Homo sapiens: one gene and its partners. The protein of the gene in region 2 interacts with the protein of the main gene of each other region in a pairwise test. Each region holds a gene or a part of one and is shown on either strand. Other genes may lie near its edges. The genes, in order: UBE3A, NFX1, LMNA and UBE2N.

What was found.
Region 1: the proteins of NFX1 (region 2) and UBE3A interact in a two-hybrid assay, tested with the Homo sapiens proteins (one study listed by BioGRID).
Region 3: the proteins of NFX1 (region 2) and LMNA interact in binary tests that used the Homo sapiens proteins (3 or more experiments, as listed by UniProt).
Region 4: the proteins of NFX1 (region 2) and UBE2N interact in a two-hybrid assay, tested with the Homo sapiens proteins (one large-scale study listed by BioGRID and IntAct).

What each region holds. Positions count from the first base shown.
Region 1 is NC_000015.10:25,432,064-25,436,691, reverse strand, and holds part of UBE3A (ubiquitin-protein ligase E3A), read left to right. Parts: intron 1-4,628. UniProt on the Homo sapiens protein: E3 ubiquitin-protein ligase which accepts ubiquitin from an E2 ubiquitin-conjugating enzyme in the form of a thioester and transfers it to its substrates.
Region 2 is NC_000009.12:33,365,888-33,370,515, reverse strand, and holds part of NFX1 (transcriptional repressor NF-X1), read right to left. Parts: intron 3,888-4,628; coding exon 3,742-3,887; intron 3,002-3,741; coding exon 2,897-3,001; intron 611-2,896; coding exon 538-610; 3' UTR 1-537. UniProt on the Homo sapiens protein: Binds to the X-box motif of MHC class II genes and represses their expression. May play an important role in regulating the duration of an inflammatory response by limiting the period in which MHC class II molecules are induced by interferon-gamma.
Region 3 is NC_000001.11:156,117,711-156,121,210, reverse strand, and holds part of LMNA (lamin), read right to left. Parts: intron 1-3,500.
Region 4 is NC_000012.12:93,414,019-93,418,646, reverse strand, and holds part of UBE2N (ubiquitin-conjugating enzyme E2 N), read left to right. Parts: intron 1-4,628. UniProt on the Homo sapiens protein: The UBE2V1-UBE2N and UBE2V2-UBE2N heterodimers catalyze the synthesis of non-canonical 'Lys-63'-linked polyubiquitin chains. This type of polyubiquitination does not lead to protein degradation by the proteasome.

The DNA of each region.
Region 1 (4,628 bases), on a different chromosome or scaffold from region 2:
ATCCCACTTGTGCAGTCCATTTAACAGGATTTATTGGGTACCTACAGTGTCTTTGACATGTAACATTTAATCAGTTGTATTTCTTAAACTTTAGATAATTTCTATTTCGATCATTTCTATTTCAATCTCCTCCCTCTCCCCTCCAAAAAAATTTACTGTGTAAACTGTGATAATACACTGTTTCTCTCAGTGTCAGTCAGTGGAATGATCCAGATTTATAGGTCATAGCAAAATTTTTCATCCCAAGCTCTTGAAATGATGTTTCCAAATGTCCATTTTCTTAAATGACTGCTAGTTATGTTCTCCAATCATGTTACACATATTTTGTTTAGACTTATAATTGTGTAGGTCTAAATGTAGAAACATTACATTATGTACATATGCAGCTGCTGAAAGAAAATTAGTTTTCTAATTTTTAGATCGGGGTGAAGACAAACTTTTAGAAGTGATCTTTCGGTAAAATACTGGATGAAGTCTTAGGTGCTCTTTTTATGTTGGTTCAGGACAAAAGTTTTTTGACTGCTTTTTGAGTTTTCCCCTCACTGCCAAATGTAAGGATAAAATGTAGTAACAAGACATCTTGGTATGTATAGTGGTAATATCTTTGGAATTAGACCCTAATTTTAATTCTGGCCTTATTAATCTTGGTAAGCCACAGTTTTGTCATCTGTAAAATGGGTTGGTGAAACTTCCCCAGAGTTGTGAGGCTTAAAGTATGTAAAACGCCTAACACGTAGGCACTCAATAAGTATTACCTTAGAAATCTTCCTATCCAGTTTTTCTGAATGGTCTGGAAGCACCTTGTATGTAGTGGACTACAGCATGTTATCCTTTATGTTGTTTATTTCTTTTCTCATTAGCTATGAACTTTTTAAGGCCAGGAATTCCTAGTGTTTACCAGAGAATGTGTTACTAGATGTCTTAGTCTGTTCTGGCTGCTATTACAAAACACCACAGACAGCATGGCTTATAAACAACAGAAGTTTATTTCTCACGGTTCTGGGGGCTGAGAAGTCCAAGATCAAGGTACCAACAAATTTGACATCTTAGTGAGGGCCCTCTTCCCTTGTTCATAGATAGCTAGCTGTCTTTTCACCATTACCTCATGTAGTAGAAGAGTAGACGGGGCTCTATAGGGCCTCTTTTATAGAGGCATTAATTCCATTAATGATGGCAAAGCTTCCCAAAGGCCCCACCTCTTAATACTATCACCTTGGAGGTTAGGCTTTCAACATGAATTTTGGGGGACACATTCAGACCACAGCACTAGAGCAGGCATGAATTGGTTATTGGTAAATCAGTAAATGATCAACTAACATTTATTAGGTTCCTCCTGTGGCTTCTATGAGCTGAGCTAAGTACAGGACCCACAAAGACAAGAAAGATGTCTGTCTTTTTTGAATGCTTATAGTTGAGTGACTTTCTCACATTTGTGTGTGTGTGTGTGTGTGTGTGTGTGTAAAACCCTATCACATAATGGAACTTCATTTTCCCATGCCCTTCCAATCTAAGAGCAGTTCTATGGACTCAATACCTCCTACCCACCAGCTGCTACTGTAAAGATTTACTTTTTTACTCCTTTTAAAAAGTTCAACCCTCTGGCACATGCATTACTTCATTCCTTGGTCCCAGCCCACCACCCCAGTATCTGGCACGTAGTGTATTAGTATTTGTGTGTGTGTGTGTGTGTGTGTGTGTGTGTGTGTGTGTGTGTGTGTGTGTATGTATATAGAATTTAAAATTTTTACTCCGGCAGTTGTCTTCAAATACTCTAATTTTGGGGGGCATGATTATCATTCTGTCTTCTGGCAGTACATGGATAGATGCTACCTGAGTAGGATTGTCTATGAGGTCAGCTGCTCCAGTCATTTTATACAAGAGGAAATTGGAGTGCAAAGCTTTAAAATGATTTTCTTAAAGTCACCCAGGTGTCAGAACCAGAACCAGAGTCCATGTCTCTAGTTCAGGACTCTGCACACATTGGCACATGTTCTGTCCTACCTTTTGGGATGAATAGTTATACTTGCTTTGTGATTACTCACCCACCTTTTTGGAGACATATGAGTGTTTTGTACACTATTAATAGAAGGCAGCCTTCACAAAATGCCATCTGCAGATCTGTTATTTCTTCTAATAAAGGAAATGATGTAAAATTACCTTAAATAGAAATAGTGTTAATTCTTCTGGAGACATATTCCATAATCCAAACACGAAATGTTTGAAATACTTGAAGATGCCATATAAATAAGTCCTTTGTAAAAAGATAATATTAAAAATTTTTGTTTTATAGAGATGGGGGTCTCACTGTGTTGCCCAGGCTGGTCTTGAACTCCTCAGCTTTTACTTTAGCTTCCCAGTGTGTTGGGATTACAGGCATGAGCCACAATACCTGGCCAAGTCCTTTTTTTTAATCAAATGACTTATTAATACACAGTTTCTTTGCCAGCTTTTGTTTTCATTTGCTATCAAAAATGTTGCTTAGTAGTGCTTTGATCTGAGTTATCAATAACAGGTAAATGCCATTATGGATAATAATTCAAAAAGAAGCTTATTAATTATTAGGCCTATCTGAGAGTGAAGTAAAGTTAGCATTTTCTTTTTGTTTATTTTACTTATTGTTTATTTGTTTAGAGACAGGGTCTCGCTGTGTTGCCCAAGTTGGAGTGCAGTGGTGCTGTCATAACTCATTGCAGTCTCAGGCTGGAGTGATCCTCCCATCTCACCCTCCTGAGTAGGTGGGATTAGCATATGCCACCATGCCTGGCTAATTTTTTTATTTTTTAATTTTTTTGTGGAGATGGGGTCTTGCCGTGTTCAGGTTGGTTTCAAACTCCTGGTCTCAAGCGGCTTGGCCTCCCAAGGTGCTAGGATTACAGGTGTGAGCTACCATGCCCAGCTGAGCATTTTTAAAAAATACTGGTCTTTGTACATGAGTCGTTACTATTTGATTCTAAGCCTTATGACTGATATCCCTAAAAATTATTTATAAAATTTTAAGTGCATCAGAGTCATTGAAATGGAATGAGCACTGTCTTTTGGTCTTGAGGTTGTTTTAACTAGCTTCGTAATGGTCATGAGCAGGTTATTTAGCTTTTGAAGCCTTCGTTCCTTCTTTTGTCAAATGAAAGTGATAGTTGCTTTGTTTTAAAAGAGTATGCTTTTCAAACGTGATCATTCTTGAAAATGTAGATTAAGAGCTTTTTAGAGGCCAAGTGCCATGGCTCACGCCTGTCATCCCAGCACTTTGGGAAGCCGAGGCGGGCGGATCACGAGATCAGGAGATCGAGACCATCCTGGCCAACACGGTGAAACCTCATCTCTACTAAAATACAAAAAAAAAATTAGCCGGACGTGGTGGCGCATGCCTGTAGTCCCAACTACTCAGGAGGCTGAGGCAGGGGAAACGCTTGAACACGGGAGGCGGAGGTTGCAGTGAGCCAAGATCATGCTACTGCCTGGCGACAGAGTGAGACTGCCTCTCAAAGAAAAAAAAAAAAACTTTTTAGAAACGTTGTTTTGGGGAATTTTTAGTGTGTGAATTCATTTTAAATATGTGAACTCCATTTGACATGGACAATGGATCTTAATAGTTTGTGATACATTATTCAGTGTATTAATCAAAAGTCAAATCTCTTTTGTAATTTGCTGTACCAGACCTGTTGTGTTAATCTGATCAATGGCAAGTGAATCATAAGATTGACCTGAAAGGAAAAGATATTTTTAGGGGACATAGAATCATATTGGATAAGATTATTCCTATAGTTCATTTTCAGGAAATCTGAACAGGAATCTCGTGTAAGGAATCACATGTGAATTATAGAAGAGAGTCTGATGTAAGACTTTATTTATTAAGGTCTGCATCTGTGTTTCAAGTAAGAGCATAGAGGTAGTATATGAGCCCTGAACACTCATACAAGTAGGATAAAATTTTTCTTAAAACTGTTGGCTGGACAGTGTAGAGTCTAATGCTGTGACTCTTAACAGTTTTGTGTGTTCCAGAAGTTCATCTCCTCAGGATCAATTGAGGTTAGTCTAGCACAGACTTTAGTTATAGAAACCAAACATGAGAAAAATTTTTTGACCCATGTCTTCGTAGCATGCAGGCTTGGTAGCTCTTTCCTAGTTCTGGATGTGTGCCCGTTGTATATACTTTCAGCAATTCAGGATGTTCCTTTTCATATTTAAGACAAGCACTCTTGCATACAAATTACATAGCTGTGGGCTGAATGAAGATGCTACCATTGCTGTACTTCTACACAGGTTCTTTTCATGTAATGAAATCAGAAGGGATGGCTTTTCCATTTCAAGCTTCTGTTAATAAGTAGTCTTAGAATTGCCTTTGTGTACTGTAGCCAACACCCCAACTCATATATTTTTATAATCTTTGTGATGCAGAATAAATTCTGAAACTTTCCACCTCCTAATTAAATATAGAAATACTGAAAACAATAAAGCACCATGTATTCACTATGGACATATGTCACATTTTGTCACTTTCTTGCACTCTTGTAATCCCTCTCTAAAGCTCATGTTAAACTCATGTTCTTTATTTTCTTCTCAGATGATTCCTTTGGCACTGCATGTAACAGTACAGGAATTTCTTCCTTTCGTACTTCCAACAAATACTT
Region 2 (4,628 bases):
GATGGCTGGGTTTAAGATAACATGTGTGATTCCGGATATGGTATACCAATTCATTATTTGGTATTTCAGACTAAAAAATTCATTTGTGCTCCTAAAGATTTTGATCAGTTTGGGTAAAGCAAGCAATGTCTGTCTGATGTTTCAGGCATTTTCAGGAGGACAAATAACTGGGACAACTGAGGCTATGACTTAGTGGCATAAAGTTGGTTTCAGGCTAAAAGTTTGGTTTGTCCAAATAAAGCCCAATAGTCCCTCAACTCTCAGAGCAATCACAGTGATGGTGTAAAGAGCCTCTTTGAATGCGTGATTGCATACCTAGTGACCATACAATCAGAGATCTGGTCATAATGAAACACTTTATACAGACAGGAATAGACAAGGGATTTCTGACACACTCATGCTTTGGATGTGTCAGTACAAGACAGTATGTGAGACTGTGATTCTGCCAGGCAGAGGGGAACGGGCATGATTTATCTGCTGGCAAATAAGTCTCCACTATACCTAATCATTCTTTTATCTAAGTGCATCATGATCTTCTTAGTCCTGGACGTCAAAATAGTCAATTATTGGCTCCTTGGTTATTTTCTGTAAATTACTGCTCCCAGGATTCCTGAAAAACAAACAAAGAATGATCAGTCTTTTCTTCTTTGGGGGAAACAGATACAGGACTTCAGAAAGTTAAGGATCAGCTGATTTACCATTTGTGAATCTTAAACATTTATTTTATTTTTATTTTAGTCTTACTTTTTTTCCTTCTGCCCTTTGTGAGCAATTTTTTTAACTTTTGTGTTTCCTTCTAGATTTACATATTACATGGGGAATTTTATTCTGTGAGATAACAAATTCTCTATTTACACTTTACAGTTTAGAGGTAACCTTTCACAATCTATTTACAGGATTTCATATATGATGATGATTTTACTCTGCCTTCACAGTTCAATGAATGCTCAGTTAACAGCTTAAGCCAAGCGAGCATCTCACTTGTGAAGTTTTGATAGTGGGACAAACATGAGCTGGTGATTTTGAAATTTGGTAATGGGCACATGGGCATTTATGATAGTAATACTATTCTCTCTACTCTAAAACATTTCCATAATAGAGTTTTATACAAAAATAAAGCAAGCCAAGGGTTTTTAAAAAGATAGCATGGGATGGCCAGGTGTGGTGGCTCACGCCTGTAATCTCAGCACTTTGGGAGGCCAAGGCGGACGGATCACGAGGTCAGGAGATTGAGACCATCCTAACACATGGTGAAACCCCGTTTCTACTAAAAATACAAAAAATTAGCCGGGCGTGGTGGCAGGCGCCTGTAGTCCCAGCTACTCAGGAGGCTGAGGCAGGAGAATGGCATGAACCCGGGAGGCGGAGCTTGCAGTGAGCTGAGATCGCGCCACTGCACTCCAGCCTGGGCGGCAGAGCGAGACTCCATCTCAAAAAAAAAGAAAAAAAGAAAAAAGATAGCATGGGATAAACGGGCCAATAACTCCACATGGTTGTGTCTAAGCAGGACTGGACCCGACTCTGGCAGTTTCTGAGAAAACCCCTCATGTTTCCAAAGTGACCGCCCATATGGATTTGCAGACTGTGCTGACCAGAACCTAGGACACCTGGCTCCCAGGAGTGGAGAGGGGCTGGTCCTGGGGACCAGGACGCTCTTGGCTGAGTCTGAGCTCAATGGGCAACACCTAGCTGTCTTCTTGTCCAGTCCCACAGGAACACTAAGTGCTGTGACCTTCATGGTGACCTTGTGAACTGCCGTAACCACCCTTCAGAGGTTTTGTGCAGGAATCACAGAGGAGGTACTGCTAGGACTTGTCTGTGGAAAGCCAGAACAGGAGTAGGCACCCCTCTCCTTCTGGGCTTTGAAGTAACTTTTAGCCACACTGCCTTGGTTACACTAGGGCAGCAGAGAAGGAGCACCATCCTGCCTTCCCTTCCTCTCCCTGACAAGTGACAAACAACTGGGACAACTGGGGCTATGACCAAGTGCTCTAAAGTTGGTTTCAGCCCACAATTCTGGTTTCTCCAAATAAAGCCCAACAGTCACCCAACTCTCAGAGCTCCTTCCCTGCTCCTGTCTGAGAAAACATCTGGCAGACTTGCCCCTTGCCAACTTGGTTTTCTTTTCTCTTTAAATCATGAATATGTTTGTTATAAAAATTATTCAAACCATATAGAAGCAGACAGAGCAAAACAAGAAAGTACTATCCACCCCCGTCACCGGCAATTCTCACCCCCACACCCACTTGCATCTTCAGAGTAACTATTCTTTTTTTTTTGAGATGGAGTCTGTCTCTCTGTCGCCCAGGGTGGAGTGCAGTGGTGCGATCTCGGCTCACTGCAACCTCTGCCTCCAAGGTTCAAGTGATTCTCTTGCCTCAGTCTCCCAAGTAGCTGTGTTTACAGGTGCCCGCCACCACACCCGGCTACTTTTTTATATTTTTAGTAGAGATGGGTTTTCACCTTGTTGGCCAGGCTGGTCTCGAACTCCTGACCTTAAGTGATCCACCCGCCTTGGCCTCCCAAAGTGCTGGGATTACAGGCGTGAGCCACCGCGCCCGGCCCAGAGTAACTATTCCTAACTACACGATGTTTCAGTCTTAAACTATCTGGTATGACAGACTGAATCCACTTCCCAGTGTCACCATCTACACCATGGAAATTATGTCCAGTGACTGCTCTCTCTAGAATCAAGCACTACAAACAACAAACTTAGGACCCCTCTGGTGGGAACAAACGTGTCTGATACCCTAACTAAACATTACATATTTGAACATGGTACCCCAAGGCCAGGCCTGAGGAGGCCACCAATGGCTGGTGCAGCTCAGGACAATTCAGCCCCTGCTAGCTTTTCTGGACAGACAGGTCCCCTTGGAAAGCAGCTGGAGAATCTTACTTGTCTGACTGATGTCTGTGATGAGGAATCGGTGGTGGAGGCCGTGCCTGCATTTCCCTTTCAAGCACACCTGTCAGCGTGGTAGGAGGACAAACGGACTTCCCCCTGATAAAAGTCAAAACACCAAGCATTGAAAAGTGAGAATTGTTTGTGGAGATGGACAGAAAGCTAGAAACTCAGCCCTTGATTTTGGCACTATGACACTACTGAGCACTCTCTGGTATGAACTGTCTGCTCTCAGACATGGCCACCTGCATTTAACCCCCTGTCCCTTCCACCCACCTATGCCAGGCCCGTGGCTTGCTTCATGTCAGACTTGTTTTCTTCACTGGCAAGTTCTTCCTATTCCCAGGTTCTGAGAGTGATCCTAGGTCCTCCCTGTCCCCTCCTGGTCACATTATTGCTTCAGTTTCCTCTGATGGCAAAAACACCATTCACAGGGGATGCCTCGAACCAGAGTCCAGCATTCTTTCTGTTTTCCCCATGCCAAGAGGACAGAGCCAAGGAGAGGACAGACAGAGGAACAGGAGACAGAAGGAGAAAAGAGCAGATATGATGGGCAGGCCCCCTTGCCTGAAGAAATGCTGCTTCCAGCATCTGCTATGACTGTAGGCAGATGTGACACTTGTGCATTTTGAGTGCATCTGCCCTGTGGGTCGAGGCATAGGTTTTGCTCTTTGGCTCAGGCCTTTAGATTATCTGGGAAGTGCCAGAGAAGCAGATTTTCCTTCTACTTTTCCAAGAGGGAGAGTGGTAGTAAGAAAGACAAGTATTGACAGACCCTGCTTCTTGGGTCCAGTTTGCCCTGCTTAGGAGTTCTTCCTCTGACGGCGGGATTGACCTACCTGATGGCAGTGACCACCACATTGCGCTTCGGTTCACTGTCATAGCTCACGCTCTCCAGGCCATAAACTTGGGCCAAGTCATGGATGATCCGGCGGTGGTCTCTGTTCATGGGAGGGAAGCTGTGGCTTTTCTTACTATTCTTTCCCTGTATTGAGGGAAAAGATGACTGATTGATCATATCATTCTGAAAACAAAATGCTTACAACTAATCTTACCACACAAGAATTGCAGGGATCAATAAGAGGTGATTTTAGAGGCCCACAGCATAGAGCATTTTACTAACTGCCAAGCAAGCCTGGAGGGGTTTGGGAAGATGGGCACTGATGCACTTCTTTCACCTACTCTGTGAGCCACAACAGTCGCAGCTGGACAGGGTTAGGGACAAAGGGTAAGTGAACTGCGACTTAGGTAGACAGCATAATGGTTCTTCCTGATGGGTTCCATAACTGGGGAGTGGGTGATATTCCCCAAAAATGACTAAAGACTTACAAAACAAGAAAATATTATTTCCTTTAAAAGTATGTTCTACTTTAAAAATCGTGAGTATTCAGATACAGACACACAAGCAGAGAAACACATCTGTTGGGGTTTCTTAATTAGGAGAGGAATAATGCATTCCATTTTCTCCTTCATGTTAATATTCTGCTGGGAAGTGGTAACAGAAGGGAGGAAAGGAGGGGAATGGGAAGAGGGTAAGGAGACTGGGAAGGAAAACCACCAGCATTAGATACAGGGGCTAAAGCAACCATCTTGTCCTTACTCACCGTCCCCCCTGATGGAAGGGGGAGGAAGCCAATGCAGCGCTGGGGGCTTCTGACTAAACTCAAGACTTTTCCACTTAAAGCTACCTCCGTGACATCCCTGGCCGCCTCCAGGACAGGGGTCT
Region 3 (3,500 bases), on a different chromosome or scaffold from region 2:
CGAGCATGTGGCACGTGCCTATAGTCCCAGCTTCTTGGGAGGCTGAGGTGGGAGGATCACTTGAGCCTGGGAGGTGGAGATTGCAGTAAGCCAAGATCATGCCACTGCACTCCAGCCTGGGCCAGGGAGCGAGACTGTCAAAAAAAAAAAAAAAAAAAAAAAAAGAATGGATTTGGTGGTGGAGGGTTGGAGAGGTAACACCAGGAGATACCCTCAGATAAAGCCCAGGGCCCATGCATCCTCAAAGGTCTCCAACCCCATTAACCTAATGGGTCTGCCAAAAGGCACAGCTTCCTTTCAATCCGGGTGGACAATTCCCATGACAAGTCTCAAGATAGTCTCAAGACAAGAATCACCAGCCTCCCAGAGCTCTGACCGTCTCACGATTGAGGGGCTGGCAGGGGTCCTGGGTCCAGGTATAGGCTGGAGCAAAGGCTATCGATCATATGCTAACAGGCCCTGCAGGACAGCAGAGTTTTGTTTTGTTTTTTTCTTTTTCAGAGACAGGGTCTTTCTCTCTCCCAGGCTAGAGTGCAGTAGTGCAGTCATAGCTCACAATAGCCTCAAACTCCTGGCTTCAGGTGATCCTCCCGCCTCAGCTTCCCAAGCAGCTGGACTACAGGTGTTGACCGGCTAATTTTTTTGTACAGAAGGGGGTCTTGCTATGTTGCCCAGACTGGTCTCAAACTCCTGGCCTCAAGTGATCCTCCTGCCTTAGCCTCCCAAAGCACTGGGATTACAGGCATGAGCCACGAAGTATGGCCATAGAGCACTAAGGTGTCACTGGCCCCAGAGCAGAGTTTCCAGGCTGCAGAAGTGAGCCTCAGCTACCTGACTTCACCTTACCTCACCCTCTAGATCCTCCCTCCAACCTGTCCCCCAAGCTAGAGAAGTGAGGCTTAATGGTAAGAGCACACCCAGCTGGAAGTCATAAGGCCTGTGATCAAGTGCTGACCCCTTTATTGTGTGACATGGGACAAGCATCTGTGCCTCTGTGGCCTTTGCTGTTCTTGTCTTGATCAGAGCCTACATGAACTGGAGCCTGCATCTCCCTGCCTGTCCACACTGGGGCTGCAACAGTGGGCAATCCAGGAAGTTGTCAAGCACCAGGGCCTTTTTGGAGTGGAAGTAGCGCTTCTGCTTTGTGGGCCTCGGATCTCCCCACTTCTGACTCAGCCTTCCTCCATCAGTTTCACATGGGAAGGCACAGACCCTGGCACTATCCTGCAGCCCAATCCATAACTCTGAACTCAACTCTGGATTCTAATTACTTGTGCATGTTACCTGTCCAGAGAGAGCTATGTGTCCAGACACCACCAGAGGGTCTCAGGAAGGAGCCAGGCAAGGGACTCCAGGATGCAATGGGGAGGGGGGCAGAAGAGGTAGACATTCAGACCACCACTCCTCCCTTTAAGACAACTGCTGTCTCCACCCTGTCTCCTGCTGTCTTCTGTAAAGCCACCAGGGTGGGAGGGAGGGGGGCAGCATCTGAGTCATCCACCCAGCTGCCTTGCCTGGGGTGGGGCCCAGCTGCAAGCCTGGACTCCAGACAGGCTTCCCTGGTGCTTACAACCTTCCCATTCTGCCTGCACTTGGGTATCCAAATCCCTTGGGCTACAGACTAGAAAGAGACAGAGAAGGGGCAGGGGGTACCAGGTGCGGTAGCTCATGCCTATACATCCCAGCACTTTGGGAGGCCAAGGCCAAGGCAGGTGGATTACTTGAGCCTAGGAGTTCGAGACCAGCTTGGGCAACACGGTGAAACCCCATCTCTACAAAATATATAAAAATTAGTGGCCGGGTACGGTGGCTCACACCTGTAATCCCAGCACTTTGGGAGGCCAAGGTGGACGGATCACGAGGTCAAGAGATCAAGACCATCCTGGCCAACATGGTGAAACCCCAACTCTACTAAAAATACAAAAATTAACTGGGCGTGATGGCATGTGCCTGTAGTCCCAGCTACTCGGGAGGCTGAGGCAGGAGAATCGCTTGAACCTGGGAGGTGGAGGTTGCAATGAGCCGAGATCGCACCACTGCACTCCAGCCTGGCAACAGAACAAGACTCCGTCTCAAAAAAAAAAAAAGAAAAAAAAAATTAGCTGGGCATGGTGGCACACACTTGTAATCCCAGCTACTCAGGAGGCTGAGGTGGGAGAATCACCAGAGCCTGTGAGGCTGACGTTGCAGTGAGCTGTGATCATGCCACTGCACCCCAGCCTGGGCAACAGAACAAGACCCTGTCTCAAAAAAAGAAGAGAGAGAGAGTATTGGCGAAAGGGGTTTCTTCTTGGAGCCTATAATCCAGCCCAACAGAAGGTCCCCCAAACTCCTGAGTGTGGTTGAGGTACCCAGGCTGGGTCAAAAATTGCTACAGGGTCTTAAAAACAACTTTCCATCCCAACTCCAAATCTGGCCCTGAACTCTGAGCTCTAATTAAACATTAAACCAGACAACACCTTCTCTCTAGGCTTTGGTGGGAGGGGTTGGGAAAATGCCTTTTTTCCTCTCCCAAATTCTTTACTCTACCCACTTCTCTACCTCACTCTGAGCACAGCAGACCCAGCAGGGAGTAACCAATCCTGGCTCCTCCTACTGTGGGCATAGAAGAGGACAGACACCCCAGTCTGAGTCCCCTTTGTCTTCACCCCACTTTCTATCAGCTTGGGATCCAGGTGTGCAAATCCACCTCTCTTTTCCGGAAGCCCAGCCTTTCCAGCCAGGATCAGTGGGGGAGAACAGAGGGAGGTGGCTAAATATAACAAGTACACACACCACCTCCGCCCTGCCCCACATGCGCACATACCCGCCTGGTGTCCCAGGCCTGGACAGCTGCACTAGGAGGCAGAGGAGACAAACTGGCGTGGCTGGGTGAGCAAGAGAATATCGAATCCACTCAATCTGTTTCTCGATCAAAGTTTTGACCAGAAAACTGCTAAAACTGCTAAAAATGTCCTTCACAGGGCTTTGGTAGATGAGTGGACTAGTTTAGAATGCAACGAATTCTCTGGGTCTCCCCTTCCTTGCTTCCTATCTGTCTTGCTAACTAAATTGTTCATATCACTAGTAGAAAAAAGACAGGCCTGGCGTCAGGCCTGGTGGCTTATGCCTGTAATCCCAGTGCTTCCGGAGGCCGAGGCAGGAGGATTGCTTGAGGCCAAAACTTCGGAACCAGCTGAGCAACATAGCAAGTTTCCATCTTTACAAACAAAAAGCAAAAAAAAAAAAAAAAAAAAAAAAATTAGCCAAGCGTGGTGGTGCCTGCCCTTAGTCTCAGCTATTCCGGAAGGTGAGACGGTAGGATCGCTTGAGCCCAGGAGGAGTTCCAGGCTGCAGCAAGTTATGATTGTACCATTGCACTCTAGCCTGAGCAACAGGGCAAGGCCCTGTCTCTGAAAAATATAATAAAAATAAAGAAAAGGACAGGTGTGGTCTCTTTCAGCAGAATGAACCCAGGAGTTCAAGACTGTGGGCAACATGGCAAAACCCCATCTCTACAA
Region 4 (4,628 bases), on a different chromosome or scaffold from region 2:
TCAGCCATTTTTATCTTAGTGTATCTCTAGGTGGCCTTATGATTTGTAAGGAAGTAGTGTAATGGGGAGCTTGAGCAAAACTTTGGTTCTATTTCTAATCCCAGCTAGAAAATAGGCAGTCAGTTTTACTATAATGAGACATTATATGTTTCTAAGAATGTTATGTTATACAAAATCATGTAGTAAAATTCACAGGGCTTACAGATAAAATGAAGCAAGGGGTATGCACTTGAAAATGTCCATTGATGATAATTAACTTTTTGTTTTGTTTTGTTTTGTTTTTAAGAGACAAGGTCTCACTATCGCCCAGGCTGGGGTGCAGTGGTATGATCACAGCTAACTGTAACCTTGAACTCCTGGGCTCAGGCAGTACTCCCACCTCAACCTCCCAAGTACGCTAGGACTATAGTCATATGCCAGCATGCCCAGCTAATTTTTTTAGTTTTTTGGTTTGCAGAGATGGGGTCTTGCTATGTTGCCCAGGCTGGTGGTAACATTTTTTAAATGCTCACTTATTGGGCCAAGTGTGGTGGCTCACGTCTGTCATCCCATTGCTTTGGGAGGCCAGGGCGGGAAGATTGCTTGAGGCAGGAGACCAGCCTGGGCAACATAGAGAAACCCATCTCTACAAAAAAAGTGATAAATAAAAATGCCCACTTATATATATAGAGGGTGAACTTGCAGATTCTCATAAGTAACTTACAGTTGTGTACATAATGAAGAATTGACTTGCTTTATTAGTGATCCCAAAAAAGGAGCCCGTTTGTTTTATCTTACAAATTTTTCATAATTTTTTTCTTTATTTAAATTTTTTTTCTATAACACACAACTTTGTCCAGAACCCTGTTTGTTAATATTTTAGAATCGCTTAAAGATGTAGTGACAGGTTGGAGTTTACAGAGTAGGTATCATTGAAGCATCACTCAGTTTTTTAACACTTATTTTTCAGTAATGAAATTGGCAGTTACTGAGTTATCAGACAGCTCTTGTTTGAGATGAGCTAAAAGATCTACAGTTGATATTACTGGTCATATATTGCAATTTTGTGTTTCAGAGAATATTCTAAAAAACCTAATCACTGTAGACAGGATGCACTGGGATATAGATAGTTACTAACTGGACCAACTTTTCTCACACACAAATTAGCACTTTTTCTAAGAATACTGTTTATTACCCCAAAATTTTACTGTACATACTCCAATCATTGCCTTGCAGAAGAGCATCTAAGACCTGTCATTGCTTCGTACTGAGCACAAATTATTTTTCAACTTAAAAATAAGAGTCCTGGTTAATAGAGATAGGTTGACAGAATGTCAGTTGTTATAATTGACTAACTACAGTATAGTTTACAGTAGTGTGAGTCTAGGGTTTGCTCTTCAAGACCCAGTAGATCTGTTGATAATTAGATCAATTTGATGTGATATTTGATTCCTTTTAAAAATATTTGTAGCATTAACTATTGTATGCGTTCTATAAGATGAGATACCTTCCTTTAGACTTAATTTTGTGGACATTTAAATCCATACCCTATTCCTTTACCAACTTACCTGTCTATTTTAGTAACTAACTTCCTGAACATAGTCTACATTAACTAATTTCCTGAACATAGTCTACAGTGCTTTCTATTATGCATGGCCCTAAACTCACTTCTGTTTGGGATTCAATCCTTGGACTGCTTTTAAACATAATAGAATCACAAAATTCATTTAAGGGTTATTCTGTTTTTCTGTAAACAACTATGGCCTTCCTATGTGATCTCATTTGTCAACTTTTTTTTTTTTTTTTTTTTGGTAGTGATGGGGTCTCACTATGCTTGCCCAGCTTGGTCTGGAACTCCTAGCCTCAAGTGATTCCCCTGCCTGCCTCAGCCTCCCAAAGTGCAGGGATTACAGGTGTGAACCATGGCATCCCACCTGCAATGTAAATTATTTGTGCCAAAAGATAGATAAGGCCGGGCGTGGTGCCTCACGCTTACAATCCCAGCACTTTGGGAGGCTGAGGCGGGCAGATCACTTTAAGTCAGGAGTTCGAGACCTGCCTGGCTAACATGGTGAAACCCTGTCTCTGCTAAAAATACAAAAATTAGCCAGGTGCTCACTTGGACCCAGGAGGCAGAGGTTGCAGTGAGCCAAGATCGTGCCACTGCACTGCAGCCTGGGCAAGAGAGCGAGACTTGTCTCAAAAAAAAAAAAAAAGATAGATAAGTGAAACAGTAGGAATTTTAGCCCTTTACTTCTTCACTTAAAGAAATCATACTGTACTCTGTCTTTCCACCAAAGAATAGTGTAAAACCAGAAGGTATTTTAGTTAGTCATGTGTTGAATAGTGGCCGGAAAGATTTTATTTCCTAGCCAGTTTTTGCCTTTTTAGGAAAAAAGTTGACATCAGTTTCTGTGGTTGAGACTTTTTCAGATGCTGCCATTTCAGACTTGTTTCATTTAGTTTGGATTTTATTCCTTTTTTCCCCTCCCACAGTTTATGCTGTGGGTTTGTTAGGGAAACCAACAGTTTAGTGAAATAATTATGCATGTTTTTGTGTCAGTCCATTAGAACTTGAGAGCAGCATATATTATAAGGACTATTTCAAAATGTTTTCTACACACGAAAGCTTATTTTAGAATGTGTTCCAATTAAATCTAGGCTTGATCAGGTCACATGATGTGCTTAATATGTACATTCTTTACAAAGAATATCTGATTTTGAGGGTGAACTGAAGATGAGAAAGTAAATGCCATACCTATCTCTGCCACTGTGTATTGAGAGTGATTTTGAAGCTATTTTGGGATACGCTTTTGGAGGCCTTTCTGTAGCTTTTTATAGTAGATACAGAGCTGCTACTACTTTGTGTAACTGGTGAGTGGTGGATTGGGACTCTTGGGCCCTGGCTTTCTTTTTTTTCCAGTCACCCAATTTATGGCTTTCTAAAAACATGAAGACCTGGGGTAAAATTAAAGGATGGAGGTGAGGAGAGCCCAGAATTCAAGGAATTTTACCATCCAGTTATTTTCTCATTTTTCTACTCCTGCTATTCATCCCTAATATCTTAACTTTTTTCCTAAAAAATGAAGACCAGCCTCTTTTGTTCTGGTCACATGTTAAAGGACTTCCCAAGGTCAGAGGCTTCATTATTGCCTCTTGAGCTTTTTAATACTCTAAAAATGTTTTAGTTTGAACCTAAAGAACATGTCAGTTTCTCACTTGCTCTTACATCGCCATGATCAAAACAAAAAACTAGTCTTAAAATACCAGAGACATTACCTAAAATGGCCATGGGTTTAATTAACACATTTTGGGGAAGCATTTGATTTGTATTTACATCTTATGACTATTTCAGTATATTACTGTGCTGAGAGAGAAGTTATTTGTTGTTGTTGTTTTTAACGTATGCCCTGTAGCTTGTGGAATGAAACAGTTTATGATGTATTTTTTTTTAGGTGAAGGCAGTGTAAATAAAATGTTCTCATTTATTGTTTTTCATACCTAAAAGCTTATTTAAATATGAACATTTTTCTGGTTAAAAATAAATATAAGTAGAAGTTAGACTATTTTTCCCCATACCTGAGTGGCTCCTTTTGTTTTCCTTCCATAATGTGCACATCCTGCCTTGAAAATAACCCTGCCTTAATGATGTTAACGATGAAATTCTGATCGTTTATTTCCCTCTTTTCATAACATCAAATAGATTCAGAATTCAGTAAATATTAATTGAATATCTATTGTGCCAGGCAGTGTTCCAAATGCTGAGGATATAGCAGTCCATAAAATAGACTCAAATCCATCCTCTCATGGAGCTTAAATTCTGAACAAAATAAGTAGAAATGAGATTTGTTAGTAGTGCTGTGGAGATAAAGCCAGGGAGTGGGGATAGGGAGTGTGCAGGGTAGGGTTGAATGGGGTTTGCAATTTCAGTTATGATGGCTTCACTGAGAAAACATGAAGATCTTAGGAGCTGAGGGAGCAAGCCATATGGATATCTTGGGGAGGAAGAGGAAGTACAAAGCCCTTGAGGTGAGCGGATGCCTGGCACGTTGAAGAACTACAAGGAAGCTAATTTTTGTCTGGAACAGAGAAGGTTAGGGGATGGAGAGAGAACAGCTGAAGATAAGTCAGAGAGGTAGGTGGAGTGAGGGCATCATATAGAGCGTCTTTTGGGGGCCCATTACAAGGACTATGACTTTTTTTTTTTTTTTTTTTTTTTGAGACGGAGCTTCGCTCTTTTGCCTAGGCTGGAGAGCAATGGCATGATCGGGGCTCACCGCAACCTCCACCTCCGGGGTTCAAGCGATTCTCCTGCCTCAGCCTCCCAAGTAGCTGGGATTACAGGCATGCGCCACCATGCCTAGCTAATTTTATATTTTTAGTAGAGGTGGGATTTCTCCATGTTGATCAGGCTGGTCTCGAACTCCTGACCTGAGCCGATCCACCCGCCTCGGCCTCCCAAAATGCTGGGATTACAGGTGTGAGCCACCATGCCCAGACTTTTTTTGAGATGGAGTCTCGCCCTGTCACCCAGGCTGGAGTGCAATGGCACGATCTCAGCTCACTGCAACCTCCGCCTCCTGGCTTCAAATGATTCTCCTGCCTCAGCCTCCCGAGTAGCTGGGATTACAGGCACGTGCCACCATGCC